Regions from separate parts of the Homo sapiens genome. Here region 2 is linked to region 1. A link means that fine-mapping ties the variant in region 1 to the expression of a gene that starts in the linked region. Tissue or cell type: thyroid. Region 1 holds a variant in brackets; the other region holds the start of a gene. All regions are shown on one strand. Distances are between the middles of the regions. Region 1 overlaps C1GALT1 (core 1 synthase, glycoprotein-N-acetylgalactosamine 3-beta-galactosyltransferase 1). Region 2 holds the start of C1GALT1 (core 1 synthase, glycoprotein-N-acetylgalactosamine 3-beta-galactosyltransferase 1).

Evidence for each region. PIP is the estimated chance that this variant, and not a neighbour inherited with it, causes the effect.
Region 2: it holds the start of C1GALT1, and the variant in region 1 is fine-mapped to the expression of C1GALT1 in thyroid (GTEx, PIP above 0.99). The same link has a PIP of 0.9 or more in adrenal gland, aorta, atrial appendage, cerebellar hemisphere, cerebellum and cerebral cortex.

Annotation. Positions count from the first base shown.
Region 1 is chr7:7,239,874-7,256,043 of GRCh38, forward strand. C1GALT1 (core 1 synthase, glycoprotein-N-acetylgalactosamine 3-beta-galactosyltransferase 1) reads left to right here. Exons shown (of 4, transcript NM_020156.5): 4 at 3,651-8,743. The coding sequence ends at 3,854. It overlaps LINC03016 (long intergenic non-protein coding RNA 3016), which reads left to right and starts at 15,281. Exons shown (of 4, transcript NR_108073.1): 1 at 15,281-15,305. The variant A/T (reference allele first, on the strand shown) is at 6,941.
Region 2 is chr7:7,173,020-7,189,752 of GRCh38, forward strand. C1GALT1 (core 1 synthase, glycoprotein-N-acetylgalactosamine 3-beta-galactosyltransferase 1) reads left to right here and starts at 9,525. Exons shown (of 4, transcript NM_020156.5): 1 at 9,525-9,801. RefSeq lists silencers at 9,265-9,874, 10,095-10,314.

The DNA of each region.
Region 1 (16,170 bases):
GATTTATCAATGTTAATTACATGTCTGCTGTGTTCACTATTATAAGCATTGCTTCAGTGAATAACTGAATGAGACCAGGAATCATGGAACCTAGCTTTTAGGCTCAGTTCTGTTACTAATAATGCCTTTAGGCAAGTCACTAGTTCTCTATGCCTTCTTTTCTGTGGACCTAACGTATAAATAATACACTTCATGCTACTACTGTCATCTTCATAAGGCAATGCTTTCAAATCATCATCTGGAACAGTGATTCTCAACCCAGGGCAATTTTGCCCCCAGAGGACATTTGGCAAGGTCTGGAGACATTTTTGGTTGTTACAGCTAGGAGGCTGCTACTGGCATCTAATGGGTAGAAACCCACTACATTATAAACCTACTAAATGCTAAACATCCTAAAATGCACAGGACAGCCTCCTACAACAAAGAATTACTCTAGCCCAAAATGTCAGTAGTACCATGGTTCAGAGACCCTGGCCTAGAACATCTGACCCAAGCTTTAGGTAATCAGCTTTAAAAGGAAACTTTTGATAGTCTGTTTTTCTATTTTAGTGAGAGTACTACTTTGGATGCTTTTTTGATGTAAACTTTTCTTAATATATTTTGACCATTCCAAGATGACTTGATCTTTTTTCCTTAATTCTGTATCCTTTTCCCATATAAAAAATTTACCCAAATTCAAGAATATAAACATGTAGCAAATACATCCAAATGCATATAAGATCTTACTAAGAGTATCTGATGTTGGATACACATACAGTAGTAGCAAAGGGACATCATAATTGGCAAATTTGTTCTTTCTCTAGAAATTTATCAAATTATGTTGAAGACCATAAAACAGAATTAGAATTCAGAGTACCAAAATTGACCCATCAATCTGACATTGCCTGTTCTCCCTCAGGAGATTCTTACATAAACCCAACGTGAAACTAAAATTCTATTATTATCCATCTATCATTTAGTAAGTTTTCTTCCCCCTAAATGAGTTTAAATCTTATACATACTTTTTTTTTCTATATACTAATTACTGAAAATACAGAAAATTTTTATCTAGCAAGTCAGGGTAAAAGATATTCTAATTCATGAAAGAGTTACATTCCTAAATTTCTTGTTCAGAACTGACTCTTAAGCAGTTCCCTTCCCACTCCACCTTCTTAGTAATAGACTTTTCACCAGAGAAGTTGCAGTGAGTCTTAATATGGTAGATTTAAAATATATGTGTAATTGTTTACATATATATCTCTCTACATGAAAAATTGACTTTTCTGTAGGTCAGAAATGGTCAAATATGATCTACTTTATTCAGTTTTATTTACATTATTCTATCTGAAACATATTAGTACATAAGTGAGGTAGAGAGCTCCTGATTTTTTTAAATTGTTAACTAATTATTCTACTACCATTTTTTAACTCATTACTGATTTAAAATGTCCCCCTTATCATACACTGTAACCTTACTTATAGTAGGATCTAAATCTGGGATTTCATTTCTATGCCATTGTTCTCATTTGATTTTGGCCCAGCACCATATTGTTTTGAACCTTGTAGCTTTACAGCAGTTTTAAGTTACTATTCTAAGGGCAAATTAACTCTTCTTTTTTTCTAAGTGTTTTGGCAACTCATTTCTTTATCTTTGCATACAAACTCATTAATTTAGGGACAATAACATCTTTGCCCAGGATTTTTTGTAAGTCACCTTTTAGGTCCTTTGGTCAAGTTTTATAAACTATTTCCATAGGTATGCAATATTTTTGTTACTGTTCTACTTGGGCTTTTAAAGACTTAACTTTTTACTGATATATATGAAAACTTATTTGTTTGATTTTCTTTTTAAGCATCTTTAAAATCTGGCTTTGTAACTGAATTCTCTATTTCTGATGATTCTTCACTTGAGATTCTTGAGTTTTTTTGGGTAACCATAATTGTCTGCTAGCTCTTGTTTTCTAATAATTATAGCTTTTTACTTTTATTGTCTTTTATTGCATAAATGCTTAACAGAATCCTGGCCATCCAGTAAAATATAAATAAATAAGAGCAATATAATTAATGCAGTAAATCTTATCAAAAATATTATTTTACAGAATATAAAAATTGCTTCCAGAGGTCAGCAATTTATAACTATTACTGGTCTAGTCCTTAAGTTTAATATGCACTGGACAGTATAGTAGCCACTAAGTATGTGTGGTTATTGAGCACTTGAAATGTGGCTAGTCCAAATTGAGATATGCTGTAAATAAAATACACACCTAATTTCAAGAAAGGTTTCATTAATCATCGCAAAACTATTGCATGTTAAAACAGTATGATGAACTTTTTCAGTTAAATAAAATGAAATTTCACTTTTTTTTTTTTTTTTTTACATTTTTTATGTGGCTACTATATGGCTTACATATCTGTTGGACAGAGCTAGTTTAGATAATCACAAGTTGACTTATCTGGTTATTTTTCCTATTTGCTTTTATTCTGATATTTCCTAAAGGTGCAAGAGTAGGTTGTCTAAGAATCTACATATCCAGTGTGTGTTTCAAAGGAAAGTTTAGAGATAACAGCAGAGAAAACGCAGTGGACAGTTTGATAATTTTTACACACTGTAAGCTACATACTTCCAAACATAAATTATTAGATTTATTAAATATTCAGTCAATATGAATCTTCTCTTGGAACTTGCCAGACTATCTCCCTCATTCTTTACAAAGATGTCAGATGGAGCCTGAAGTTTTGTTGGAGTCACCTGGATGACACCAACATTCTCCAGATACCAATTCTGACTCTAGGTTGACTGCTTAATTCATCTCTTTTTCTGTCTTCTTAATTTTCTTGCTTTCTTGTTCGTTGTATTGTTGTTGTTTTATTTTAAACTTTGTTCTCATACCAACCCTATTAGGAATTTATGAGAATTACATAACTGGACAAAGGTTTAAATCTGACCTACCTTAGGGCCACCTGATATGATTTTTCAGTCAATAATAGCTAACATTTATTGGGCATTTATTTTAAGCAAAGGGTAATTTACACACATTGTCTCCTTTAAATAACCACCTTTTACAAATGTGGAAATTAAAGCTTATAGAGATTAAATAACTTACTCAAGGTCGTATACTAGCCCACAAAATTTGGGTTCAAACCCAAGTCTAGGTTGAGAGCTTTGTCTCAAATACTGTACTGTTTGGGTTGATACATATATAGATGAAGTGTATTGGGTTGTAGACACCTAATGGGCAAGGCTTTGTAGTCATTGAATGCCCTAGAGGTATGTTTCCGAGTATGAGCCACACAAAAAATTACAGTGAGAAAATGAGGAAGAGAAAGCAGATGTTGGAGAAGGAGATTTCTCCTTGTATAGCTGCTCCTTTGATTTGAAGAAATCTCAGTAATTTTATCCGCTAAAGAGTGTGAGAGAATATTGTTTCATTTAAAAATACTTTCCACAGTTTCACTTGGTTTCACCAATTTCAATTGGTTTTAAATCATTAGGATGTCTAAGTAAACTATTGATTTCTTCCACAGGTCTAGTACATTAGGTTCCTCTGCTTTACCTTGCCATCTTTAATGTTTGTATTCTTTTAAAATTAGCTGGTCCTTTATAAGTATGTAAATATTGTAGCTAGCAATGTGCTGTTTATTAACAATACCTGTTTCCACTACTTTTTTAGGGTCCTGGTTGCTGCTCTGATCTTGCAGTTTCTTTTCACTATGTTGATTCTACAACCATGTATGAGTTAGAATACCTCGTTTATCATCTTCGTCCATATGGTTATTTATACAGATATCAACCTACCTTACCTGAACGTATACTAAAGGAAATTAGTCAAGCAAACAAAAATGAAGATACAAAAGTGAAGTTAGGAAATCCTTGAAAGAAAATCATGAATGAACAAAGGTAATATGTCTAGCACTGCACTGAAAAAGGACTTCTGCATTTCTGACATAGAACACTGGAATCCCAGTGAGGAATTCTAAGTGAACATTCCTTATAGAAACCTTTCACATGAATGACTATAAACTGAAGCTTTAAATGAGCTGTGAAGTGTGTTAAAATGTGTTTTGATACAGTAATATATAAATATGTCTATATATATGAGGAACTTGTGTTTTTTAAATGGTGGCCAGGTAGAGGAACTAGAAAAGAGATTTTGTTGCCTGTTTTCTGACCATCTGTGTTATTGTCACTGAGAAACTAAAATAGTAAATTTACTAAAACTACACTGCACCATGTTAGTAATAAACAGATCTGCCTTAAAGAAAAGAAAATTTTAGAAAGAAATATTGTTGCTCAGTGTTGTTAATATAGCTCAAGAATTGAGTTTATATTTGCAGTATGCTATAAATGATACCCCCCTACCACACCCACACACACAGTTTTTGTCTAATGAAAATGTTGCTGTGATTATTTATAATTGGTAGTATTTCTTCCAGAAGAAGCTAAAATAAGACTGGCACTTACCCTGAAGTGCATTAATAAAACCACACTTTAAAATTATCATGGGCCTTGACTATATTATATACTTGATTCTAATTAGTCATCTTTTACGCAATCTCTGTTGTCTCTTTTCTAAATGTGTTTAGCCACTCTTGAATACCATTCTCCACTATTAACATTAATTTACTCAAACCGTTCATAGCATTCTGTAAACATGTATTTTACATATTTGTTCCCAAATTTGCCCATTGTTCATTATGGGTAACTAATAATAAATTTAATGCTGTTTCAGGATGCTTTTCTTATAACAGTGCCACTCTCAGGAATTACTAAGTGACATTTTAAATTGATATTTTAAACTCTTTCCAACTACATAGTTATGGTTTATTTCATTCTCATCCTGTTGGGATGAGAACTTGTTTGTGCCTTTCATAACTTGTTTAAAGCAGAGTTTTAAAATTAGTTTATAGGATCTGAGGTGGCTATTAGTTACAGTGGCAAGATTATTTAGAAAGCAAGATTTTGATGAGAATTAAAAACAATAGAAAATGTAGAGTGCTTAAACAAAAATGTTATATTTTGAAAGAGTAGATACTTAATTTATAAATAACAGTCTGAAGGTTGGTGCTATTTTGGGATAATTGTTTTGCTAATGGATAATTCTAACAATGCAGAATACCTAGTCAAGACTGTCATCAAAAACATTCACAAATGTTTCATTCTATTTTTAGTGACTCTGTTTAAAGAGTTTCTGAAAGGAAAGAAATTTTTTATTTTTATTATCTTTAGCAGTACTGAGTGTCATAGCAGAATATTTTACAGACTTTCTATGAGATTATTTTTATGGTACAAAGTATTTACATTTCCCTCATGTTTATCATTATGCCAATTTTACATGGCAGTCATGCCACTGACTCTGCTATTTAGCTAAGTAATTTCTTTTTTCGGAGACTGTCTCACTCTGTCTCCCAGGCTGGACTGCAGTGGTGCGATTCTCCTGCCTCAGCCTCCCGAGTAGCGGGGATTACAGGCACGCGCTGCCACGCCCCGCCAGTTTTCATATTTTTAGTAGAGACAGGGTTTTGCCGTGTTGGCCAGGCTGGTCTTGAACTCCTGACCTCAGGTGATCCACCCACCTTGGCATCCCAAAGTGCTGGGATTACGAGCGTGAGTCACAGCACCCGGCTAAGTAATTTCTATTTATTGTGCCAAAACATGTCAAAATCATGACCTCTTTGAATGGTATATTTGAGAGGATGTTCATTTCATTGGTTAACCATGGACTACTCTGTCCACGTAGTGAAAACATGCACCAGTTTTTACCTATTATCATGGTAGTATCATCTGCCAAAATTTCAAGGCATTCATTTTATTCTTTGAACAACTCTTCACCATGGTGTGGACATGAATTTTCATATGTGTTACTTGACTAGAAGTATAAATGGTTTACTATAGATATCCAAAAACCTTGAGATTTGCTCATAGGAAATGAATATTGTGATGAATCCTGGGCTCTAGAGTCAGACTTGCTTGGGTTTAAATTCTTGCTCTAACACTTACTGTTTTTGTAACCTTGAGCAATTTTAATCTCTCTGTGTCTCAATTTCCTCATCTTTTAATTAGGGATGATAATACTACCTACCTCACAGGATTTTTATGAGGATTAAATAAATGTAAGGTTTTTAGAACATTGATAGGGAGCAATAAATAGAAGATTGTATTATTATTCTGTTACCTTGGAGTGTAAGTACTGCATTTAAGTGAATGAAAAATTTGCTTTGACCAGATACTGAAGGAAATAAGTAATAGCTAGTATTTATCCAATGCCAACTGTATGCTAGGTACTGTGCTTAGATAATCTGTGTATAATAGTGTTAATCCTCAAAATTTGGGTGTTATACCCCTATTATAGATAAGGAAACTGAGGCTCAGAGACAAAGTAACTTTGTCACTGTCACAAAGCTAGTAAGTAACAGAGGTAGGATTTATATTCAAAACCCTGTGTGTTCATTGGAACCGTATCAGGCTTGGGGCTATTCATGTAGCATTATTTCCATTTTTATGTATATGATATATGACGTCTGATGCATTGGCCAGTAATAGTCAAATTAACCCAGCCAAATTGTCACAGTGATTCTTAAACTGTGGTTCTCACACTTGCCCAGGATGTTGTTAAATGCAGATCTGAAGACCCCAATCTCAGAAATTCAAATTTAAGCATGGGGCCCAAGAGTATGCATTCTTACCAGATACCTTGGGCAGTGACTGTCAAAAGTCTGGTCCCAACAAACAGCATTAACGTCACCTGGGAACTTGTTGGAAATGCAGCCTCTCTCGGGGCCTCATCTCAGATCAGATCTACTAAATCAGATACTCTAGGGGCAGGGGCAGGGGCAGGGGCTAGCAGTTGTGTTTAAGCAAACTCTGCAGGTGTCTTTCTTATCCTAGTTTGAGAACCAATACCCAACAACCTACGTGATTTTGGTGCAAGTAGTGTTTGAAACACACTGAAGATTACTGCCC[A/T]ATTACTAAGACATTTTTCAAAAAGCATGTTTTAAATCAGTGTAGTCCAGGATCACACTATATTAAATATAAAGATAACTTAAAGGATCATTGGATCATTCATTTTGGCCAAATTTTTAGCTTCTCCAAAGTGACTAACATCAGGGCCTACAATAAAATCTGTAATTCTCCAAGTTTAGTAATTTTATATTGAGGCAGGAAGGGCTCATTAAGTACTAATAAGTACATAATTTATTAAAAACATACATAAGTGTCATCAAAAAGGTCCACAATTGTTAGTAAAAAAAATTAAATTGAAGTAGTAAATGCTGTTTTATAACATACATTTTTCTGCTAATTCATTCTGTTTTGTGTGACCTAATAAAGCAAAAGAAAAATAAAAAAGCAATTCTCCAAGTACTTCATAGAGCACATAAAACCAGATTTCATGATGATGATGTATTCACTATCTTTTAGATTAAGATCTTTGTTATTTGGTAAATGATTTCAGTATGGTTTTAAAACATAAGGCTTTTGATGTCTTATGTTCTCTAATAATGGTATGCTTGTATTTTCTAGTGGGAAGTTCATAGATAAAGCAGATTTTTGTCCCAGTTTGCTTTCAAATATAAATTTCAGAGGGCTTTTTCTTACTGTAATGAGGTATGAAAATAAATCATTGATCAGCTCTTAATATTTTTTGAATACAGAATTGGATTTGAGCAGTAAATTTGCTAACTGGTTATTTTCACAATTTTCTTGAATATTAATTTTTCACTTCTTTGAGACTGTCAAACTATAGTTACTACCAGGTTGATGCACTGTACTTGAAAGAATCCCTTGATTAAATTACATCTAGCATTTTATTTGCCATTTCAATTTTCAGTTCATTAGACTATAATTCTTTGACAGTTTCTGCCTGGTGTTTATTGCCCTTCTTTGTTTGCTTTATTACTAACTTCCATTTTCTAGTTACTCTTAAATGCTGCCTTCACAAGGTTAATTTGGCTGTTAATAGTGATTAGAATTTTTATCACTTAATTGATAATTTTAAGCCTACTAACTAGGGTTCCCTATGAAATTGAAAGTAAAAGTCTAAGAATAATGCCTGCTGGCTCTCGAGATACTTGCCCTACTTAAAAATCTATAATTTAAAATTAATTCTATGTCTACAATTATTAAAGGAAGTAAAGTTATTTGGGTTCTTCCACTCACCCTTTTCTCAAAAACAACAACAAAAAACAAAACTCATTTTATTTTTCTACTTTATAGTAGGCCTGACAGAAACATAGTGAAGCAATCTGGGAGGCAACCTGTGGTAGATTTTATGCTAAATGTTAATGTAACCTCTGTTGATTTTTTAAAAATGTGTTTATATATAAGATTTGAAATAAAAACTTTAATACAGGCTAGAATAAGGAATTTTACAAATTCTCTTTAGAGCAACCAACATTAAAGTTTTAGAGTTGAATTTTGCTCTATTTCAACTCCCTTACCTCTCTAGTTTTCAGTTTATATTAAGTTTTAATAACTTTGCGGGGCCCTGCAAATTAATAATCTACATGAAGTATATTATTAGAGGGAAACTAATCTTACTGCTAAGCAGTGTGTTGTACTACATAGTGAATGTTCGTGTTTTGGAATTTAAAAATTATTTAAGGTAATGGTGTTACGAATGGTTTAAAAATGTCTGGTGACTTGCTTATTTTTAAGTGATCACCATTAAGTCAGAAAAATGTATTTTTAAATGTTTCTTGAAGTGCCTTTTGAACATTTTTAAACAGCGGATTTAAATAATGCATAAAATAAATTGCCATGTTCAAAGTTGTTTCATCTGATTATTTTTAACCAATATAAAAGTTGTGAGATAAATGTTGTCTTTTATGGGTAGTTTGGGGTTATTTTTCCAAAAGTTTAAAATTGTTTTCCCATCAAAGCTATTTAGTTTGAATTGGCTTTCATAAGTTTTACTGCAATATATGTATTATTTACTTTAAAGCAACAAAATATTCCACCTCTGACTGAGAATAATATACTGTAAAAAAATTAGAAACACTGTAGTCTAGGTAAGTGTGTCTAGATGGGTGGGGGTGGAAGAGGGGAGAGAATCTCATATATTTAGAGAGAGATTGCTTCTGTGCTCCTTGGTATATTTTGATCTATCTCATACACTGAGAAATTAGTTTATTCAACAAATACTTATGCCAGGCATCTGCTAGAAATACAGTGGTGAGCAAGACATACAGGATGTCTTAATTCTAGAGTTAGAAAATAAGCTAGTAGATGAATAAACAAAGTATTTCATAGAGTGGTATTAGGAAAATAAAAATATTATCAGAACAATTTTCTGGATGGGGTATTAAGGAAGACTAGGAAGTAACATTTGAGCAGAGACTTGAATGTTGAATAACAGACATTTTATATACTTCAGAAGTTACTTTTATCTATGAAATTATTTGCTCCAACTATGTGTTAAAAAAAAAAAAACTTTCCACCCTTGCTTAATCATGCTGTAGGTGTAAGTGAAGGCTTACTGAAATGTACACTATAGGCTAAAAAACTTTGTGTTTTTAGGCATACTTCATCCAGAGCTCAGGTGTATTGATAGATTTGTCTGGGAGTTTCAGAATATGAATAAAAATAGACCTAGTATTTTATCTCTTTCTGGGCAAACAGTTACAAATTCCATAAGGCCCTTGAGTCTAGCCTATATGTCTTGATTTTTCAGTAATCTGCTACCCAGTATGTTATTAGCATGTGTGTGTGCACACGCAAGCATGCATACACACTGTTATTTGGATTAGACAGCTTTAGAAAAGCTGAGGAGATAAATACCACTTCATACTACTTTAGTAGTAGAGTTGTATAATTTAACATATTCAGACAGCTAAATATTTTCCAACCAGCTGTACTGATAATTGTTAAGTCATTGGAAAGTAGATATATTTACCTAAATATATACAATTAAACCTATTTTAAGTTTTCCAAAGGTATGACTTCATAGTACTGGAAAGCATACAAGAAGATTCTTGCTGAATTTATCTCCTTGTTAAAGGGAAGTACTCTACAGAGCTCAACATAGTGGTCGTCTTAAAGTCTAATAATGCTGACAATATGGATTGTTCAAGGGAAATTTTTTTAGTGGTTAAGAATGAACTAACATTTAACTACTAAAGTTGAATGAGTTCAGCAACATTGGCATTCTCCAGATGCATCTGTATTAGTAAAACAGAAGTGAACTTTGTTTTGCCATGAGTTTATTACTAATTAACGCATTTTGTATTGCTGCCTAGAACTTAAAACTGTCTCTGTGTTGCATTTCTTCTACAAAATGTGCTAGTGTTTCTTGTATTATTATCAATATTGCTTTTCTCCAGGACTGAAAATTTGTCCAGGGCATTATATACTTTCTTATATATTGCCCCTGTATAGTGCAGGTTAATACAACAGCTTACTTTGAAATAACAAAATACTCATATTTTAAAAAATGAGATTCAATCCTAGAACTTAGGCTCTTTGGCTTTTCTAATGAATGCCTAGTGAAAGATTAACAGTACTTCATTTCTAGAACTGCCGAATGATGTGCTATCGTAGAACTAATTTGGGTACAGTGTCTTCATTTTTACAACTAATCAGTTTTTGACTTTCATAAGCTTCAATTTTTTTTCATAGAACTACCTAAACTGCATTGTCTCCCCTTCTATACCTCTAACAGTTCATTCTTATTAATTTTCTTGTCTAATTGTTAGATTGTGGAAAGGTGGTGATAAAATCCAGAACATAGGTTTGGAAGAGAAGTAATATGCAACTTTTCCTTTAGTTCTACACATGACTCTCTTCCTTGTTTTTATACTTTTTGGTGGGGTGTGGGTAGGTGAGTGTGGGTATGTATATGTCAGAGACAAAGAAAAAGGATGGTTATGATTATATTTTAATAACTGGATTTTTAATGTAATTGAAGTATTAAAACCACTGCATTTTCATGTTGATTAGGTTTATATAATAAGTGGTTTATTTGATGAAGTGAAGGTAACTATGTGTTTAGAATAATTGGCCACAGATATAATTCCTGATTTTTAAAGTAATTTTTACAAACCTACTTGCCTGACGGAATTTCTCTCTTTTTTGGCCTTTGAATTTATAGCTCTTGGAACCTTCTCCTACTCATCTCTCATTCCATGTTTTTTTCTTTTACCCTTTCTTTTTCTTCTGATTGGCAGCAGCAAGTCTTTAGTTTCTTAAGACTTTTTATTGCCCCCATTCTTTTTTTTTTTTTTTAAGTAGGGACAGGGTCATATTGTGTTGCCCAGGCTGGTCTTTAAACAGTTTGGCCTCCCAGAGTGTTGGGATTATATGCATGAGCCACCATGCCCGGCTGCCTCTATTTTCTATCAAAATGGATGTGTTTAAGACTTTTTAAAAAATTGTGTATCTTTTGTGAACCTCAGTTCCCTCTCACCAGCCTAGAAGTTGCTGAAAGAAAGAAGAGATAGCACTCAAAGAATCGATGCCCACATTATCCTGCAGTTTCCTCTTTCTTAAGGAAATGTTTCCTTCTAGAACCTACTCAGTGAAAATATGGGTGCTTAAATACCTGAAAACCAGTGGGGAGAAAAACTTAATCTTTATAGATAAAAGATTTCAGTGTTCAGTATTAAGGCAGTCCTCTCTCACATCTTAAAAATGGTCACTATGACCTGTTGAATAAAATGAATATAACCTCAGATTATGTGACCTTCCACAGCCTGACCTAGCATGTATTCCCTTTTTAAAAAATTGCTATTCCTTACCTAAACGCCAGACAATTTAGCTCCAAATCATTTAACCAACATTTGAGTGCCTACTAAAAGTATTGAGCTAGATAATAGGGATAAAGTGGCAAATTATATTTGTTGCTGTCAAGGAACTCACCTTCTATTAGAAGCAAAGTACCCAAAAAAGTAGTTGTGTGCAGTAGAGTTATACTCTCAGGCAGTGTGCTAATTGTTTTACATTGCATTATCCCATGTAATTCTTACTACAATCCTGGTGGATGGATTATACTATCCACTGTTTCAGGCTTCTACTGGGGATCTTGGTATGTATCCCCCCGTGGTTAAGGGGGAACTACTGTATTTTGTTAACCTCCAGCACTTTACACAAAAGGGGAACTGAAAGTACCAGATGCTACATAGAAGAAAGAATGGAGTGTGTGAAGCAAGAGACTCTTCTCGAAAGGGGCCAATTTAAATCATTTCATTTCCATATGCAGCCATAACCATGTAAAAACTTCCATCCACATCATTCAATGGCTTTTATACTCTTAATTCATATTGCTAAGAAAACTTCTGGCTTATTCTTCTTGTTAAAGTTTATGAAGTGTCCTGATATGGAGGGGGGAAAATGCCATTTCTATGACATAAGCCCATTAACCCACCCAAGTTGTCAGAATCAAGAGGAGGTGTTTGAGAAATTGTTTCCTCTTTTTAAACATTTAACATTTTTCTTTTGTGTTAGTTTTTCTTCAAAACGTACAAAAAAGTACGCATCATTGTATCTTGTGTATTTACTACCAGCTTTTACTAGATAAGTCATCTTTCCATTGAAAAAGTGATAAGCTCCATTATTTTAAAAAAAACTTAAACATTCATTGCAGATGACCATTTCAAAGATGAAAATTTTTAAAGGACCCCAAACCCCACCACCCCCCAAAGTAATTCCAATTAATGCATAAATATAAATTGGATAGGAAGCTAAATAGATAGAAATGGTTTTATTAAAGTGAGATCGTGTAACAAATGCTAATTTTAACATTATAATTTCAAAAAAATACAGTTGCTCTTGATGTGGCCAAAATCTGCAAATTGTCCTGGGGGCAGGGAGAGGGGAATGTCATCTTAGCAGCAACAAAATTGAGTGATTTCTTTGGGAGGGGGAGATGGAGAGAGGAAGAACGGACTGGACTTAGGCTTCTCTGTAGCAACATTCAGTGCTAAAGCAGAGTGAAGCAAACTCTACCAGATTCTTGGGGGAGGAAGAAGCCAAGTGATTTCAAATGGAAGGGTAAATTGAAAGAGTGAGGGTGGACACTTCTTGAAAAATCTAGATGATGAAGCCCATCTAAAGAGATAAATGGACAAACATTGAGAACAGGACTGGTGGTGGTTAATTATTTAACTATGTAGCTATAGAATTATTTAAATAAGGCTATGGAAGCATATTGAAATGTTATAAATCTTGATATAGAAAAGATGATTAACAAGTTAGAAAATAGAATATCAAAGACGAGGTAATATATACATGCCCTAATTGGTTTTACTTTTCAGAATAGAAATTTTGTAAAATTGATAATATATCAAGAAATAGGGATGTAATATTCTGAATAGTTATGAAGGTAATCACCAAAACTGTAAGCCTGATAACTATTAAAATGAAAACACAAAATTAAAGATAACACAGGCCATATAAGAGAGCTAAAGGGAGAATTTACAATAGATGACAGAATTAAGACCAAACATAGATATGATGTCAAATAAGGAAAAATATGATTTAACTTATAAATGTATGAATATACAAAAACTGTTGGCAGTACCTTTGGGGAAGGGTACTAGGATTGGAAAGAAATTCAATAATTCACTGTTTTCCTTTTTGAACTTTTAAAAAATCATGTTTATACTGTCACAGTTTAGAGAAGTAAAGTGGGAAAAAAAAGCTGTTGGCCCTGGCTCCCTAGGGTTTTTACAACCAGTGGTGAAGAATGTCCACAGACATTCTTAAGCAGCAGTAGAGGTAAGCAGGTACACACATGAGCTGGAAAGATCTCAAAGCTGATTTGGATTCTTTTATCTTGCCATAAGAAATTACTTTCTTCAATCAAGGGTATAAAGACTGCTGAACTAGTTCATAATGAGGGTAGATGAAGGAGGTATCCATCTTCAAGAGTGGTAAATAGTTGACCCATACAAAGGACCAGCAGCCTCATGTGGACCCGTCTTAGCATCCTTCTCTCCTTCTACTCCAAGGGTGAAGAGTACTCGGAAGTTACTATTTATTCTCAAATCCTTGTGTCAGATTATTTTCATATCTTTCTTAGATCTGTTCTGGCTTAAGTCTTATTCTCTTATTCATGGAAATAGAAGACACTGAGCCCTTTCCCACATAAAAATATAGGACTACTGATTTCTAGAGCTTAAAGATGTTCTAACGCCTCGTTTGAAAGATTCAGAAACAGATCTAGAGATGTTAAAGTTTAGAAAAATGACACAAATAATGCCAGAAGTGGCAACAGAACTCAATTTTCCTGACTCCCAGGTTAGTGGTCTTTGTACTAAATGCAATTTCTTATCTTCCCTGAACAACCTGAGCTATGTACTTTAACAAAATTTTTTGTGGGTACATAGTAGGTGTACGTATTTATAGGGTTCATGAGACACTTTGATACAGCCATGCAACAAGTAATAATCACATCATAGAAAATGGAGTATCCATCCCCTCAAATATTTATCCTTTGTGTTACAAACAATCCAATTATACTCTTTTAGTTATTTTTAAATACACAATTAAATTATTGACTATAGTCACCCTATTGTGCTATCAAATACTAGATCTTATTCATTCTTTCTGTTTTTCTTTGACCCATTGTACTGCTAGATAGAACTCACATATTTGGTCCCTGCCTTTTCCCACCATTTGCAAATAGATTCTAGGAACGATCCTAATAGTTGCCAGGCACTGTTATCAGAGATCAAATCTGTCTTGTTTCCAATTGTGCCTGGGACATAATAGGATTTTTTTTTTTAAATAACAAAGCCATGTGTAGTGCTGCATGCCTGTTGTCCTAGCTACCCAGAAGGCTGAAGCTCAGGAGTTCAAGTCCACCCTGGGCAACAAGACTCCATCTCCACAACAAAAAAGTTTAAAAAGGTTACTATACGATTACTATACATTGTATGTATCAAAATATTACTCTCTCCCCCATAAATATGTACATTATATATCAATTAAAAGGAAGTAAATGGTGAGCATCCTTTCACTATGAAGAAAAGTTCTCCATATGCCCCCTACTTTCTTCTGTTTCATTTTTATGGAGACCTCTAAACAAAATGCTTTTCTCATAGATATGGAGGGACTCCTAAACAGGTTTTCTGCTTGAGAAAATCTTGATTTGAACTCCACGTATCATACACCATCAGGCAAAAAACCTCGCATTTACGTTGGAGAATACAGTCCAGAAAAAGAACAAAACCTCAAGTGTGGGCAGAAGATTGTGTGTATTTGCTATTAGGGAGGAGAGCTCAGGTTCCTTTTCTCTACAGTGACCATTAGACATTCCAAAGCACTGTCACTTGGTGTAGCTCAGTGCTCTTGGTTACTGAAGCAACAAGTGATCTCTGATGACAAAACAAAGGTAGGGTCGTGCCTAACACTGGTAAGGAGAAAACTGTGTCGAGTTAGTTAATAATTAATTTACATGTCAAGTTACAAGTTTTCTATCCTAAAATCCAAAAAAAGCAACAGCTCTTTTTTTTCCTCCAGTCATTAAATCACCCATTCAACAAACTTTCACCAGGCTCATGGTTTGTCAGCTATAGAAGAGAAAGGAGGGCGAAACCTGTGGTTAAGGCTTGCCTGAAGGATCTCACATTTGGGTTGGGGGCTGACATGCCAGTGAACAAATAGCCTCCTCAGGACTATGATAGAGGTATTTACAAAGAACTATAAGAGGACTGTATATTAAGTGTTTAGGGATCTGAGAAGTTTCAAAGAAATTGTGGCATTTGAACTGGATTTAAAGAATAAGGCTCAGGTACAACTTCATGTGAAAGAGTCGATATATTCACAAATTTGCCAAAGCCCAGTTAACTTCAATTCTTCGAGAGTTCCAGTTTTTTCCCAGGTGCAGTCAGTGTACCATTTTTTTCTGAGACCCACAGCCATTTTCTTTCATTGGCATGTTTTTAGGTTTATTTTTCAATAACTCCAGTACCCCTGAAATTTCCTTCCTTAGATCTTGAATAAATATATTCAAGTTGGGCATTACTGCATGGTTTGAGGATAATGTCTTTCCTGTTAAAAATATTTTTAAGTTTTTATACAAAGGTAATGTATGTGCTTGGTAAAAGAGAATGAATATAAAATGAAAAGCTATAATCTGCTACAGCCCCACCCAGCAGTCCCTTTGTCCAGCCATAAACAGAAAATAACAGAACTGTACTCATTTCCAAACTAAACACATCATTCTGCTCCTTGCCTTTTCTGCTTACTGTTTAATA
Region 2 (16,733 bases), 67 kb before region 1:
AGCTTCTTTCACTTAGCAATATGCACTTAAGGTTTGATATAGTTTGGATATTTCTCTTTGCCTGAATCTCATGTTGAAATGTAATCCCCAATGTTGGAGGTGGGACCTGGTGGGAGCTGTTTGGACCATGGAAGCAGATCCTTCATGAATGGCCATCCCCTTGGTAATAAGTGAGTTCTTGCTCTGGTTCACATGAGATCTGGTCATTTAAAAGTGTGTGGCATCACCCCTCCACCTCTGTCTCTTGTTCCTGCTCTGGCCATGTGATGTGCTTGCTCTCCCTTCACCTTCTGCCATGATTGCAAGCTTCCTGAGGATTCCCTGGAAGCCAAGCAGAAGCCAGCATCATGCTTCCTGTAAAGACTGCAGAACCATGAGCCAGTTAAACCTCTTTTCTTTATAAATTACCCAGTCTTGGGTATTTCTCTATAGCAATGCAAGAATGGATTAACACAAGGTTCAACCATGTGTTTTTTTGGCCTGATAGCTTATGTCTTTTTAGCATTGAATAGTATTCCATTGTCTGTGTGTACCACAGTTTATTTATCCATTTACCTTGTATTAGTCTGTTTGGGCTGCTATAACAAAATAGTACAGACTGGACTGGGCACAATGGCTCATGCCTGTAATCCCAGCACTTTGGGAGGCCAAGGCAGCAGATTACTTAAGCTCAGGAGTTGAAGACCAGTCTGCGCAACATGGTGAAACCCTATTTCTATAAAAAATACAAAAAATTAGCTGGGCATGGTGGTGCATGCCTCTGGTCCCTGTTACTCGGGAGGCTGAGACAGGAGGATCACTTAAGCCTGGGCGGTGGAGGTTGCAGTGATCCTGCCGAGATCATGCCACTGCACTCCAACCTGGGTTCCAGAGCAAGACTCCATCTCAAATTTTTTTAAAATAGGAAAAAAATAATATAGATTGAGTGGCTTAAACAACAGAAATTTACTTTCTCACAGTTCTGGAGGCTGGAAATCCATGACAACAGTGCTGCCAAATTCACTTTCTGGTGAGGGTTCTTTTCCTGGCTTTATAGGCAGCCGTCTTTTTTTTTTATGTCCCCACACGGCCTTTCCTCGTGTATGCTGAGAGACAGAAAGAGAGAGTGCTCTGGTATCTCTTCTTGAGAACACTAATCTTACCAGATCAGGGCTCCACCCTTAACTTGCACTACTTCCTTAGAGACCCCATCTCCAAATACAGCCACACTAGGTGTTAGGGCTTCAGCATAGGAATTCTGAAGGGTACATAAAAGCGCATCTTGGTTACTTTCAAGTTCTGGCAATTATTAATAAAGCTGCTGTAAACATTCAAATGCAGGTTTTTGTGTGGACATAAGTTTCACCTGATCTGGGTAAATAACAACGAGCCCAACTGCTGGATTGCATAGTAAGAGTATATTTAGTTTTGTAAGAAAACTGCCTTTCAACATGCCTACACTGAACCAGGTGTGGTGGCCCATGCCTGTAATCCTAGCACTTTGGGAAGCTGAGGTGGGAGGATTACAAGCTCAGGAATTCAAGACCAGCCCGGGCAACATAGTGAGAACTCATCTCTAGTTAAAAAAGAAAAAAAAAAAGTAGCTATACCATTTGCATTCCAACAACAAATGAAAATTTCTTCATTCTTTTTCCTTTCTGCTCCTCAGCCTCAGTAATTTCAGTGGTCTTATCTTCAAGTTCACTGACTCTTCTGCTTGCTCAGTTCTGTTGCTGAAGCCACTTAGATTTTTTTATTTTTATTTTTCAGCTTCAGAATTTCTGTTTGGTTCCTTTTCATAACTACTATCTCTTTGTTGATATTCTCATCTTGTTCATACATCATTTTCCTGGCTTCCTTTAGTTCACTGTCAATGTTTTCATTTCCATGTTTAGCATTTTGAGCATATTTAAGACAATTGTTTTAAAGTTTTTGTTTAGTAATTCCAATGTCTGGACTTCCTCAGGGACAGTTTCTATCCATTTATTTTGTTCCTTTGAATGAGCCATACTTTCTTGTTTCTTTGTATGCTTTGTGATTTTTGTGTGTGAGCTTGAAAAGTGGACATTTGGCTCCTATGATGTGGTAACTAGAAATTAGATTTTCTTCACTTTCCTAGGGGGGTTTGCTGTTTTCTGGTTCTTGAAGGCTGTAGCAGTCAGTTTATTTGATGCCTGTCTCAAACTATTATTTCAAAGACTGTATTCCTTGTCAATATGGTCATGGAAGACTCTGTCCCTTAGCCTGTGTTCAGCTAGTGTTTTGGCAGATTTCCTCGAATGCCAGAAGCTCTCACAGTCTTTGCAAAGTGGCTCTAAGCCAGGGCTCTACTTCAATTCTTAGTTAGCCTTGCACTGTGCTAAGGGATCAGCCCAAAATGAAAGCTTAGGGTTTTCTCAGGTGTTTTCTAAGCAAGTGTTTTGCCCTGGGCATGTGCATGGCTTTCTAAATTCCCACGTATATATGGTTGCTTTTGAATATTTTAATTTCCCAAAGAAACTCTCTCCAGATTTTGCCTTAGGCAGTCTATTGCATGTTTCAACTGTAATCTCTGCCTCCAGGTGTCTAGGGTTATTACTTCAGTTTGCTGTGTTTTCCAGCTTTTTCTGCCCTAGGTTCTGAGTTAGCAAAACAGAGGAGAGGATCTTGCATCAATCCTTCAGGTAGCCCCTTGTATTAGTCTGCTTGGGCTACTGTAACAAAATACCACAAACTGAATAGCTTAAACAACATAAATTTATTTTTCACACTTTTGGAGGCTAGCAAGTCCAAGATCCACATTCTGGCTGACTTGGTTTCTGCTGAGGGCTTTTTTTTTTCTGGTTTATAGATGATAGGCTTCTCTCTGTGTCCTTACATAATGGGGAGAGAGAACTCTTCCTCTTCTTGGAAGGGCACCAGGTCTATTGGATAAAAGGCCCTACCTTTATCCCCTCATTTTACCTTTATTACCTCTGTAAAACCCCAAAAGGATAGGGTTGGGGGGCTTTCCAAACACATAGAGGTTCCCAGAGGTTTGTATGCCTGGAGACAGCATGGAAGCTACATGCCATTTCTTCCATACCTTACATTATACATCTCTTCTATCTGGCTATTCATCTGTATCCATTATAATAAGTGAGTAAACATAGGTAAAGTATTTGCCCAAGTTCTGTGAGCCATTTCAGCAAAATGGGAATTTGTGGAAAAAGGTCGAGGAAGGAGATGCTTCTCTATGGAGGATGAATAGAAACAAGAAAAGGTATCTACTATAGGTCCACCTTTAGATTTAGAAATACAACTTGAAATAAGAAAAAAAAAATGCCACATTATGCAGCTACACAATTTGTAAGTCAATTAGTTCTTTTCAATAACAGATGCAACATATACATTTATAAATAATTTACTCCTTTGGGATTTCAAACTAAAGAAACTTCAACTATTTCACTTACAACAAATGTTTCTGCTTCTGTTTCTCATCAATTGAGAAAACAATTAAGGAACACTCCTGATTCTTATTCCAGGGAACTAGAGGAACAAAGAGTAACCCCAGGGATTCTAGCCTCGTAAGCTGAGAATATTTTTCTAGATGACACAAGTTCCTCAGTGCACACGTGACAGTCTCTGCTTTCAAGCTAATATGCTGTGAGTCACACTGAGTCCTCTTCCCTCGAGGTTAAATGTATTTCCTAGACTTTTTTTCTTTATTTCTTCCTCTGCTCTATTCTCCATCTTAACCCTATTCCTCTGTCAGTCAATTCAGAAAACAACACCAGCCATTCCAATTGTCTCAAAATCTTGGTAAATTTTGTAAAGATGTAGCTACAAGGAATAAAAACTGTTTAGAAAATGTTCTCTTAGGTTATACAGGGTGGCATTGTCAGGTATTTTCAATAGGAGACGAGAAGCTCTGTCTAAAAGCACAATGTTGCCAGAAGGATTTCCCTGATCTTTGTTTCCTGGTGTCCATTTTTCACTTACTCCCTAATTTAACATAGGAAATGAGGTGCAAGAAGCTCTGTCCCTTTCTTCCCCCTAGAGTTCTTCTTTTTCTTACTCAGGGATCATCCACAACAACAAACAGTCTGATATCTAATTAGGCCAGTAGTTTCAACTGATTTGGGCTCACAGCTGAATAGCTGAAAGCAAGAAAAAACCATACAATTAAATTAGGGACCTTGTATTTAAGGCCATTCATCCACTACATAATCAGGACTTGAGTCTCACACTAAGGCTCTGTCTTACTCATTCTAACATATTTACCTCTCAGGTTAGTCATGCCACAAAAATGTGCATTGTTAATAATTGCCTCATCTCTACCTTTGATGTTCCAGTATATAAAGCCTTCCCCTGTGTGCCCTAAGTTCTGCCCTCTGAAAGAGAAAGACATGTTTTCTGCCATTTATTTTCTTGCTATTGGGTGCAATTTTGCTCTAGGATGAACTCATAAACTCAAATAACCGGTTATATATATGTTTGTTATTAAGTTTGTTTAAGTACCTCTGTCACAACAAAGAGGAGCAGATATACTCAGCCACAGTTACAAATTAATTCATGAAAAAGAAAAAGGAGCCAGTGATAATTATGCATTCTTTTAAAAGAGTAATAAATTTTCAACAGGCTCATAAAATGAGACCTGACATATAAGCTACCATTCTGCCATACTCTTAAATCCAAACTGCTTGCTATGAATGATGCTACTATTTTATACAGTACACAGTAAAATCAGTAAATAAGTTGTCACTTCCTGAAAGGTCTCCATGGTATTCATGTAAAATACTTAATGCTTAATTGCTTAAACATCAGGTAGACCTCATCAGCCTAATTTAATTAAAAGAATGCTAATGCTTTATATGTAAAGCATATTTACATATAATCTCATTGACTGCCTTTTGGGGTACATTGGGATAATTTTCCCCAGTTAGTGGATAGGGAAATTGAGATTCAGAAGGGTTAGGTGACTTACTACAGGTCATCCAGCTAATCAGTGATAAAACTGGGGGCACTGAAAGATAAGTACCTGGATTGGGCTTACCAAAGTGGTGGCTACAAAAAGGCTGGAGCTGTGTTTAAAAGTTTACAGGAGAGCCATCCATTTTTAGTTGACTTTTTTAGGAAATGATCCAGTTTGAAAAGGAGCAAGAATGCAGGAATTCTGCAACAGAGGGCTTTGAGAGAATTTAGATCTGTAGATTCTGATCTTTGGATAGATTACATCAAAGCAGAATTGAACCGCCCCCTTGGTAGACCTGAGAAATGTAGACAGACCTGTTGGCGAGCCATGAAAATGTTGCAGAGAGAGTCATCAGAGGCATCTGTAGCTAAACATGCTATGCATCAGACTGGTCATTTGTGAAGAGAAATAATACAGCCAACTTTGTGAAATAGTATTGCAAGCCCTCTGGGCAAATTTGTATTATGAGTCAATCTGTAATTTGCTTGGAGATGGCAGACAAGATGGCTGTCTGGTTTCAAGACATGGTTTAATTTTGTGTTAACTCATTAATTTTTAAAAAATTAAAAAAAATTGATTGAGGAAAAACAACTGGGGGCAGAATTCAAGTTTCAAGGATTCCGTTGTTCTATTCACCATGTTACTTCCACAACTGGCAAAGTTTAGCTCTCAGTAAGATTCACACTACATCTCTCTATAAGAGATCAAAAAACCCTTAGATAATACAGGTGTCAGGGAGCAAAGATAATCCTAACATTGTATGCTACCTACTAAAGTGAAAAAGATATACTTCATTCAATTATTTATTCATTCAAACAACAAATAATTGAACACCTGCATGTGTGCCAGGCATTGTGCTAGGCTCTATTATATCCAGCTGTATGAGTTACCTATTGTTGTATAACAAACTATCCCAAAACTTAGTGGCTTAAAACAACAATCATTTAAACATTTAGTATCTCACTGTTTCTGTGGCCTAGGAATTCAGGAGCACCTTAGCTGAATGGTTCTGTCTCAGGGTCTCTTTCTAGGTTACAGTCAAGATGTTGACCATGATGCATGCAATCATTTGAAGGCCTGAAGGGTTGGAGGATCTGCTTCCAAGCTCACTCACATGGCTCTTGTCAGAAGGCCTCAATACCTCACCGGTTGTTGGCTAGAAGCCTTAATTACTCACCATGTGAGCCTCCTTATAAGTTGCCTGAGTGACCTTATGACTCTGACATAACAGCTACCTGGCCCCAACAAGTAATCCTAGAGAAAGAATAAAAAGTCTGGCATGTTTTATAGTCTCCCCTCAGAAGTCACATTACATCATTTCCACTACATTCTATTCATGAGAACAAGTCATTTAATACAGTCCAAACTCAAGGTGAGGGGAATGAAGTTTGACCCTTTGAAGGAAGAAGTATCAAATAATTTGTGAACATATTTTAATACTACCATATGAGTTAATAAAATTTAATACACGAAATTTAACTTAATTATTATAAACTGGTGTTAATATATTTGTAAAATGTAGGTATTTAAAGGGAAACTAAGTCTATTAAAGAAGACAATGTTTTAATGTTGTTGCTAGCTTGTTTGCATTTTCTGTCACCATTTTCACCTCATTCTGTCTATTAAAAAATTCTATATATAGTGCTAAATAAATGATGACTTGGCCTATCTTATTATGTCAACTAAGAATTGCATTTGATACTTACAACAGACAATAACAAAATCTTATATAGAAGGGATATAATCTTCCTCACCTAACAACAAATCCAGAAGTGGATAGTCCAGACCTGGTAAGTTGGCCCTCCAAAGCAACCATGGACCTAGGCACCTCTGGTGTCCTACACTATTAATAGTGTCTGTGTGGCTTTTGTTATTATGGGTGAAATATGGCTGTTCTACCTCCAGTATCATGTCCCTGTTTCAGGTTCAAAAAAAAAAAAAAAAAAGGGATGGGTGCATATCAAATGGCTAAAGCGATATTTCTTCCATAAAGCTTTCCTTGAGTCTCCTCTACAGAAATTCACTTTTATTTAATTGATGGTCACATGGCCAGCCATGACTTATGAAAGTCTAGGGGCATGAATATTTTTAACTGGCCACATTGTCACCCTGAAGAAATCAGAGTTCTACTAGTAAAGAAGAAAGGATTTTGGTTTAGACAACTAGTAATGTCTACCGACCTACTCCAACGAGTTTTGACATGCATTATTAAACACTAGACACAAGAGAAACAACAATACTGAGGTTTATGTGTGTTTCAAGTATGTTTCAAATGGGAGAATCTGGTCAGTTTTGAGTCCCACATATAAAGTATATTTTTCAAAGTAACCACAATTTTTATTCTCTAATTGAAAATGTCGAAGAATTGGCTGACATTAATGTCACTTCTAGGAATGTGTTCAAGGAGATAATTGCACAATTGTGCAAAAGCCTATGGATAAGAATGTTCATCAGAGACTTTTTTTATGGTAGTAAAAACTTGGAAACATAAATGTCAATCAATAGAATACTGGTTGGATAAATGATGGTATATCCATTTAACAGACAGTATGCAACTTTTAAAAATGATGTTATTCATGACTGTTGTTCACTGTGCAGATAATACGATCCAATTTATGAAATATTGTATTTATATGTCTATATGTGCTTTTATTCTTAGAGAGATGCCTAGAAGAATGTAACACAAAATTTAAGAAATGGTTATCTCTATATTATGGTATTTGGACAGATTTTAACTTCTTTGCATTTTTGTTTAAATTTTTTAAATTTGTTTGCATAAGCATGTATTGTTTTTATAAAACAATAGTTATTAGCTGGGTGCCACAGCCTGTGCCTGTAATCCCAACTACTGGGGAGGCTAAGGCGGGAAGATTGCTTCAGCCTTCAGCCCAGTTATTCGAGGCTGTTGTGTGCCAAGATCACACCTGTGAATAGCCACTGCATTCCAGCCTGGGCAACATAGAAAGACCATATCTCTTCAAAAAAAAAAAAAAGCTATTTTCAAAGAAAGGCAGGGTGGGGGCAGGGCTGATTTGGTCCAGTATTGTTTCTAGCAAGTAATTTTCCAGGATAAGGCTGTGGCTGACCTTATTTTAGGAAAGGGTTCTAATCTTTGCTCAATGGAAAAAAGTGTTATTCTTTATTAATTATAACTTTTAATAAAATTAAAACGAGATAAGGAGTTGTGAGTTTTGGTTTCTATTTGGAACACTGACCCCTGAAAGAGTTCTCCTTCCATGTTTCACAATGGATGGCAAGACATTGCGGAAAGGTGGAAGGATGTTGCGGAAAGGTGGAAGGATATTGCGGAAAGGTGGAAGGATATTGCGGAAAGGTGGAGGGGGAGGAGGCTGAGCAACAACTGTATACAAGTTGGGGAGGAGTAGAGAATGGACGTAATCATGTAAGGCAGAGAAGTCTGGACCCATGAGCCAAGGAAAGAGCAATAACCTGGACATCAGGATAGCTGCACTTCTCTTCTAACATGGACCTATCAGTTTATCTTTCTGGCCTTAGTTTTGTCATCTGAAAAATGAGACATCTGTATTAGAATCACTACATGTGCTTTATGTTTCACAATTCTTTTGGATATATTGATGCAATGTCCTGAGAAACTACACTACAGCTGAACCTAAGCAAATTAAAGGAAAAATAACAATAACTAATGTATATTATTATTTGTCTCAGGCATTCTAAGTAACTTGCCAATAGGTGGAGGGACCAAGATGCCAGCCCGGGCAGTCTGATTTCAGAGCCCATACTCTTTAACAACCATGCTGTAGAGTACTAAAGAACCGCTTGGATAGGGCATTTAAAGGAAGCAGGGTAGCTTTCCTATTCTGGAACGTGGTCTTGTAGATAATGGTTAACGCCAGTAAAGACTAAACCTTACCCTCACCTCATGACTATTGTGGGGTTGCCTCAACAGGTGGCAGCCTCCTCCCCCTATTCCAAAGACAACTTCCTTATTCAGAGCCCAGCGAAAGGGGAGATAGGTTTTGTTACGCCCCTAAGAAGCTCTTCCGGCCATTGCCCCACAGAACCGAAGTGCTGACAGAACCAAAGACGAAATGTGCCTATAGAAAGCTTTCTGGTATCATTATCTCGGTTCTCAGCTCTTCCTGGTTCTCACATGATGACCCAGCACCCGTATGCATACTTCATCTTATTACTTCCTTTTATTAAGCCCAGAGAGATACTGAGTAAAGAGAGCACGGGGAGAGAACAGAAAAACAAATGAACGGGTTAAGAGCAGGCTACAGGCCACAAGAGTCCTGCAGGGTTAGAGCCTGTACCTCAGACAAAGGTCCTTCAAGCATCCCCTTTCTCGCTCCCTATTGTTACCCTGCTTTCGTCCCGCTCAAGGTCTTGAAGCTAGTGCATAACCTTACAGCAGGATCAGAAATGCGGAGAGTAGCAGACACAAGCCGCAAGGGGGATACAACAAAATCTACTGCTCGTGCAAGATCCGACTTCCCAGACCCCTTCGCATTAGGGCGGAGCGTGCACCCGGCAGCCAATCCCCGCTTCCTCACGTCGCCGTATCCCCGCCCACCGCCCCTCCCGCTCCGCCCTTCCCTGGGGCTGGTGCGGCGGCGGAGACGTCAGCGCCAGGAGACTTCGGGTGGCGGCTGCGCCATAGGCGGGCCACGGCCTGGACGCGCTGCGGGGAGGGGCGGAGCGAGCGGGCGGGAGCGCGCGCTGGGCCCGCCTTGGCCGCCGCCGCTGTGCTGCCGCTGCCGGGGAATAATCTGGGCGGCAGCGGGCGGCCTCGGCTAGCGGCCACGAGCCACTTCTGCGGCTGCCCAGAGAAGCAAAGGTCACCAGTCCCAAGTCGTCCCCCTCTCCGCCCCCCAGGAGGGGCGAGAGGGAGCCGCAGCTGATGTCAGGTATGGCCGGCGGAGGCGCCCTCAGGCTACGGGTCCAAGGTCTCGTCTCCCCTCGCCCTCCCCCCTCTCCGGGTTGGTGGGGAAGCGTGGAGGATGGAACCAAACCCCGGGCGCGGCGGAACAGGTGTCTCGGGGTCAAAGCCGGGCTGGGGTCGTCCGGGCTCCTGAGGAAGGCGCGAGGACTTCCCGCTCCCGGAGCCTTAGCGATCTGCCACAGCGTTCGGCTGCGTACCCGGCCTCAATTTTGTGGACATGTACCCTCCTCTTCGTCGTGGGTCCTTCCCTTGTGCCCGCTCGCGCCCCTCTTCTGCTCGCGCGCTGCCTGGCGGCGCGGCGGGGCGCGCAGTGCGCCCGGACCGGACCACTTAGCGGTCCTGCCCCGCCGGGCCCTCCCAGTCCCTCCTCCCGGGCCCTCCCCGCCCCGCCGCAGACCTGTGGGTCCCGCCGGACTGGGCGCCCAGGTGTTGGGCACCTTCGCCGGGGAGCCACTCGGCTGCCGCGCCGCCTGAGCGCCCAGCGAGCGGGCTCCTTCCAGAGGTGCCTGGAGCTTGCTTGGGTCTAGCTTGGATCATCAGGTTTGTCTGTAGCTGATTTATTTCTTTAAGTTTCCCTGCCGCAGAGTGAAGCAGATACGTGTGTGTTGGGGCATTCGGGGCATGGAGGAGGAAGAAAGGCATTAAATTTTTTTTTTTTGCTTCTGCACCCCATTTTTCCCCAACAAATTGTGATGGAATTAGTAGGTGTTGACAAGTTGTCCATTTGCTTTGAATTTGGGTAAGTCGTACACTCTTAAAAGATGACCATAATTTAGCGCTGTGGATTTATTCTTTCCTGGTCCTTACCGTCTCCCCACCCCCCACCACCCCGCATTTAAAGCAAACAACAGTATCAGCAACAAAAAACCCACACATCCTGGAAAAATTCTCAAGATTTCTAACCTAGTTCTCTATATCCATTGTACATACTACTGTATTTCCTTTTAACGCTTTTTTAAGATAGAAAACTATTGTGCTAACCATGGATTGATTTCATTATGAATTTAAAAGTTATAAATTTAGAACCATAATGAATCAATGAATAATTGGCCGATGTGTAAGGGAGAGAAATATGTTAACTTACTAAAAGTTGGGCATAGAACATAGCTCTGCCAGGAAAAAGTGCGCATAATTTCAAGTTGCTTCATTCTGGTGTGAGTTTGGGAAGTTGGAATCCGAGTTTTTAGAAGGTATTTAGATGACAGCTTTTCACCCTCTTAGGTAAATGGCAGTTGAGCTTAATGCCCATGATGCTGTATGTTCTAAATATTGTATATAGTACACTATACTTTCTACCAGTCTTTATATATAGATGTACAGTTTAAGTGAATATAAAGTTTCAAGTTAGCAAACAGTTAACTCTTCACCTTATGGTAAGTGAAACAATGACTTAGTAAGGAAAGTATGACTCATTTAAAATTCTTCATAAAGAGAATAATTTTTCAGTATTAGTGGAGAGCTACTAAATGCCTCTCAAATTTGCCTGGAATGTGTATTTTTTTGTATCTTCCTACTTAGGATTAAGCATTTTAGAAATATTTTGTGTTTCCTATTTAAAGTTTTTCATAATTATGCTTTTTAAGACTAGACTACGTTGAGTAAATTCAATATCCAGTTATTCTTAAAATTGTATCACAAATTTATTTCAGGGTACACATAATGAGTTCTTGTTTACCTAATAGAAATATGAAAAAGTATGTCACTAGGCACATGCTACTATTTGTGTATTGATTTGTGCTAAAATTAAAATTGCATTATGCAGTTTAACATTATAAGCCATGGTAATTTAGAGTCTTTGTGTGGTAAAATCATTGATTGGAATTTTTGTGACAGTGCAGCTATAAATAAACCTTAAGTAGAAAATGGAAAGCTTGATGCTGAAATTAAATTCAGATAGGCTTAAAAGTTTAAGCTTCCCAATACAACCATCTTTTCTTTTAGAAGATTTCTTAAGATTTGATTAAAGACGCTGATGTACAAACTATAGCAAGGCTGAAAGAAAGGTATGACAAAAATCTTTTTACTTCAAATTCAGTGGGATTAAGTCATTCTTTTAAAAGAAGAAAGGTGGGGAGCGGGAAGGAGACTTGTTCCATAAAATGAGAAGTTAGCCTTTTATCTTAAAATCTGGTTAGAGAGGAACTCCAATGTGTACTTAAATTATTTTGCAGCTAATTCAAATGTCCAAGGGGAATATATATGCCAAAATCTGTAATATGTGAGAATAGGAAGAGGGAGAAAAAAAATATATAAAGAAACTGGTGTTTGTGATTTAGGGAAGCACATAAGAAGGTGGGGGAAACTGAAAGGAAAGTCTAAATAAATTATCTAGCACCTGTAGTATGTGCTGCCTTGCACATTGAAGGGGCGTGTTGGGGGCAACGAGAGGCAATATTAGGGAGATTCTGGAATGGGAAACCTGTATATTAAAGCACATTTAAACGGCTAGATGTTGGATAATAGGCAGAATTTGAAATTAAATACAGCTTGGCATAGTTATTTGCATTCTTGGTCATTGTATTTTCTAGGGCTGCGGTAACAAAATACGACAAACTGGGTGATTTAAAACAACAGATTTATTGTCTCAGTTCTGGAGGCAAGATGTCTGAAATCAAGATGTAGGTATGGCCATGCTCTCTCAAGGTTCGAGGGGAGAATCTGTTCCATGCCTCTTAGCTTGTTGTGTTACTGCCAATCCTTAGCATTTTTTGGCTTGCAGCTATGTCACTCCAGTCTGTGACTCTGTTATCACAACATAATCCCTGTGTGGCTCTGTCTTCAGATGGTGTGCTCCACTTCTTGCAAGGATACTAGTCGTATTGGATTAAGATCCACCCTAATCACCTCATCTTAACTTGATTACATCTGCAAAGACCCTATTTTGAAATAAGGTCACGTGCAGAGGTACTGGAATTAGGACTTCAACCTATCTTTTGTGGGGACACAGTTTAACCTGTAACAGTTGCACGGTTTATCTTTTACATCGTTCAGTAAATGTTTAGCATTATAGACTGAATCAGAGGCTATAGTGGAAACAGGATGGGACACTTACATTTATTTACATATATCAGTGATGTCTTAATCTGTTTTCTGTTGCCTCTAGCAGAATATCTGAAACTGGATAATCTATAAAGAAAAGAAATTTATTCCTTACAGTTAGGAAGGCTGAAAAGTCCTGGTTCAGGGGGCCACATCTGGTGAGGGCATTTGCTGGTAGGGACTCTGCAGAGTCCTGAGGATAGCACAGGGCACCACATGGTGAGGGGGCCGAGCATGCTAGCCCAGAACTCTTTCTTTCTTTCTTTCTTTCTTGTAAAGCTACCAGTTCCTTTCCCATGATAACCCATTCATGAGGGCTGAACCCTTAGTACCCAGTCACCATTTAAAGACTCCAGCTCTCAATACTGCCACAGTGGTGATTAAGGTTCAACATGAGTTTTGGAGGAGACAAACATTCAGACCACAGCAAGTGCTTACTATGTGCCAGGTCCTGGAGATAAAACAGTGGATAGGCAAAAATCTCTGTCCTCATGGAGCTTACATTCTGAAACACGGGTTCTAAAAATGTGGTCCCTGGATCTGCAGCATCATCATCACCTGGGAAGTTGTTAGAAATTGAAATTTTCAGGCTCCATCCCAGAACTCTTTATTTAACTAGCCTTCCAAATGATTCTGATGGAGACTCAGGTTTCAGAACCACTGATCAAGATGGAAAAGAGACAGTAAACAAGATGAATAAGTAAAATAATATTTGATATTAATAGGTGCTGTGGGTAAGCATAGGGTGGCCAGTGAAGACTCCTGAAAAGTAAAGACCTGAAGGAGTTGGAGAGTGAGCCATATGAGCACCTGGGTGCGTGTTCTTAGCAGAGAACAGTTAAGTGTGAAGACCCTGGCACGTTTGAGGAATGACAAGCAGTTAGTATTAGGTTCAATCTATGAAATTGCTGCTGTTTGTTCATTTTTGACCTACAAAAACACCAAATACTGGGGAGAAGAGATCAGAAAGAAAGGGGTGGAGTAGGATGCAGATTGTGGGTAGATCCTTGTAAGGTTTTGGCTCTCTAAGATTAGGAAGACGGGAGGGTTTTGAGCAAATGAGTGATGTGATCTGATTTCAGTTTTAAAAGGATCATTGTGGCTATTGGTAAAAATGGGCCAAAGAAGCAAAGGCTAAAGGAAGGGGAAAGTTGGTTAGAATGTTGTTGGAGTAGTTAAAAGACAGAGAGGTTGCTCAGACCAGGGTGATAGCAGTGGAGAAGTCAGAAGAGGTACAAGACTAAAAACGCACAGTAAATGGTTTGAAAAGTAAGTTTTTTTCATCCCACTCCAGTTACCCAGTTGTCCTCCTCAAAGGCAATTAGTGTTAAAAGTAGTCTTATCTCTATTCTTCCTGAGATTTTTTTTTTTTTGAGACGGAGTCTCACTCTGTCGCCCAGGCTGGAGTGCAGTGGCGCGATCTCAGCTCACTGCAAGCTCTGCCTCCTGGGTTCACGCCATTCTCCTGCCTCAGCCTCCCCAGTAGCTGGGACTACAGGCACCTGCCACCATGCCCAGCTAATTTCTTTTTTTTTTTGTATTTTTAGTAGAGACAGGGGAGATCTTTTATGTAAATGTGAGAAACAGTTTTAACAAATTAGTGGAGAGGTTGTTACCTGGAAACATTTAGCAATGTCTACAGACATTTTTGTTTGTCACAACTAGGGGGAATACTACTGGCATCTAGTGAGTAAAGGCCAGGGATGCTGGCTAAATATCCTACAGAGGACCGGACGGCTTCCACAACAGAGAGTTATCCAGCTCTTAATGTCAGTAGCGCCAAGGTTAAGAAACCTTAGTTTAATGGGATTTACAGAGGTTGGTGGGAAGCAAGTGTTGTAGTCAGAGAAGACAGTAGGAAGAGGAGCTGACCATATTGGGAACCTTTCAGTAACTGTAGACAGTTCAGGATTGCTGAAGCAGACATAAATTATAAGGCACAGAATAGCAAAAGACGAGGCTGGAAACCTGGACAGGCTCTAGGTCATAGCCTTTATTTATATATCATGTTAATAAAAAATGTTTAGTTTTTGTCTTGTAGGCAGTGGAGTTCCGTGAAAGGATTCATGGGGTGACATGGTCAGCTTTTCATTTTAGAGAGCTCATTCTGGTGACGGGGTATGAGTTAAAGAGGGATAGCACTTGAGTCAGAGAGGTTAGATATTGTAATAGCCTGTGGGGAGAGAGGAGAGTCTGAAATAGGATAAATACTAGAAATGGAGAGGAGACAATGGATTAGAATAATATTTAGGAAGTAATGTTGGCAAGACTTGGTAATTGGATTTGGGGTGAAGATAAGGGAAGCATTAAGAATATCTGTGTACTTTGTAGTTTAGATAATCCTGTGGCTCTGAGTGAAATAGGAACCCATTGGTGAATAATTTAGGTAATTACCAGTAATTAAGGTAAAATGAGCAGAGGAAAGTAATGAGTCACTTTGGAGGTGTTGAATTAGAGATGCCTATGGTCCAGGTGGAAGTATTTAGCAGGCATTTGTGTATGTGAATCTGAAACTTGGAGAAGTCTGAAAGGATCAAGAGATCATTTTGTTTGACAAGTGTGGAGAAATTAGTGGACTTTAATTTTTATCATATTATTTCACTCTGTAGATAAAAATTGCCTCCCTTTATTTAATTTTTATCAGAAAAGTAATGTGTGTACCCGATGCAAAATTAAAACATCAAAAGGTTATAAAATAAAAAAAAATTTGTCCTTCCTTGCTCATGCCACCCAGTGCTAGTTCCCAGAGATAGCTCTTGTTAAATATCATATGTATATATATCTTAACAGATTTTAAAATATATACAGAAACATTTAAAAAGCCAAGTGAAATCATACTAGAAAATATTTCGGTACATTGTCTTAAAAAATAAACCTTTTATCTTATACAGTTGTTAAAATGAATGACATTGTGTTATGGATAAAATAAGTGAAGGGGTAAATTAAAGTGCAGACTAACCGATAAGCATGATCTCTGATGTAAATTAAAAGCTGAACATACATATGTGATGATATAGGCATTACCCAACGATACGAAAGCAGTTACTTTTGGGGAGAGATAGTGGTAGAGATGGTAAAGAAAATTTACTCTTTTCTGTCTATGATTTTCTTTCATTTGTTTAGGTTTGTTCCTTTTGTTTTCTTTACATTTTCTGATGTTTAAAAAAATACCCAGTATACCTTATTAACAATAAAAAGTAACCTTTGTCAAAAGCACAAAGATTTTCCCTATCAGCACATGTAGATCATTGTTTTTAACAGCTACTACTATTCTATGCTATGGCTCTATCTTTTTTTTAAAAAACTGGTTCCTCATCAACAGACAGACGTCTTATGGTTATGGCTGTCGAGCATCTTGGCTGACTTCTATGATTATATCTGTAAAATAAGTTTCTGATCATGAAGTGATATATCAAGGCATAATTAGTTAAAAATTTAAAAAGATGTTGTGAAATGCCCTTCCAAAAGACAGTAAAAGTATGTATTATGAGAAAGAATACAGGACTACCAGTTTTCTTGTATCTGTGTCAATAACAGCTGTTAATAAACTTTAAAAGTTTTGCCAATATGTTAGGTTAAAAATAATATCTCTTCATTTGATTTACCTTTGTGAGTGAAATTTGAACATCGTTGACCATTTTTTACTGTGAATCTTTTATTTTCTTTATCTGTTTTTGTATTTGGTTAACTATCTTTTTTATTATTTATGATACTTTTTGGTTCTTTTTGCTGTACATTAAAAAAATATATTTCATAAAGAAATATGCCCTTTAACCAGCGACTTCATTGCCAGAAGTTTATCCAATGAATAAACTCATAGTGTTTTAATAGTCACAGCTTCTGAGTGTGGGAGAGATC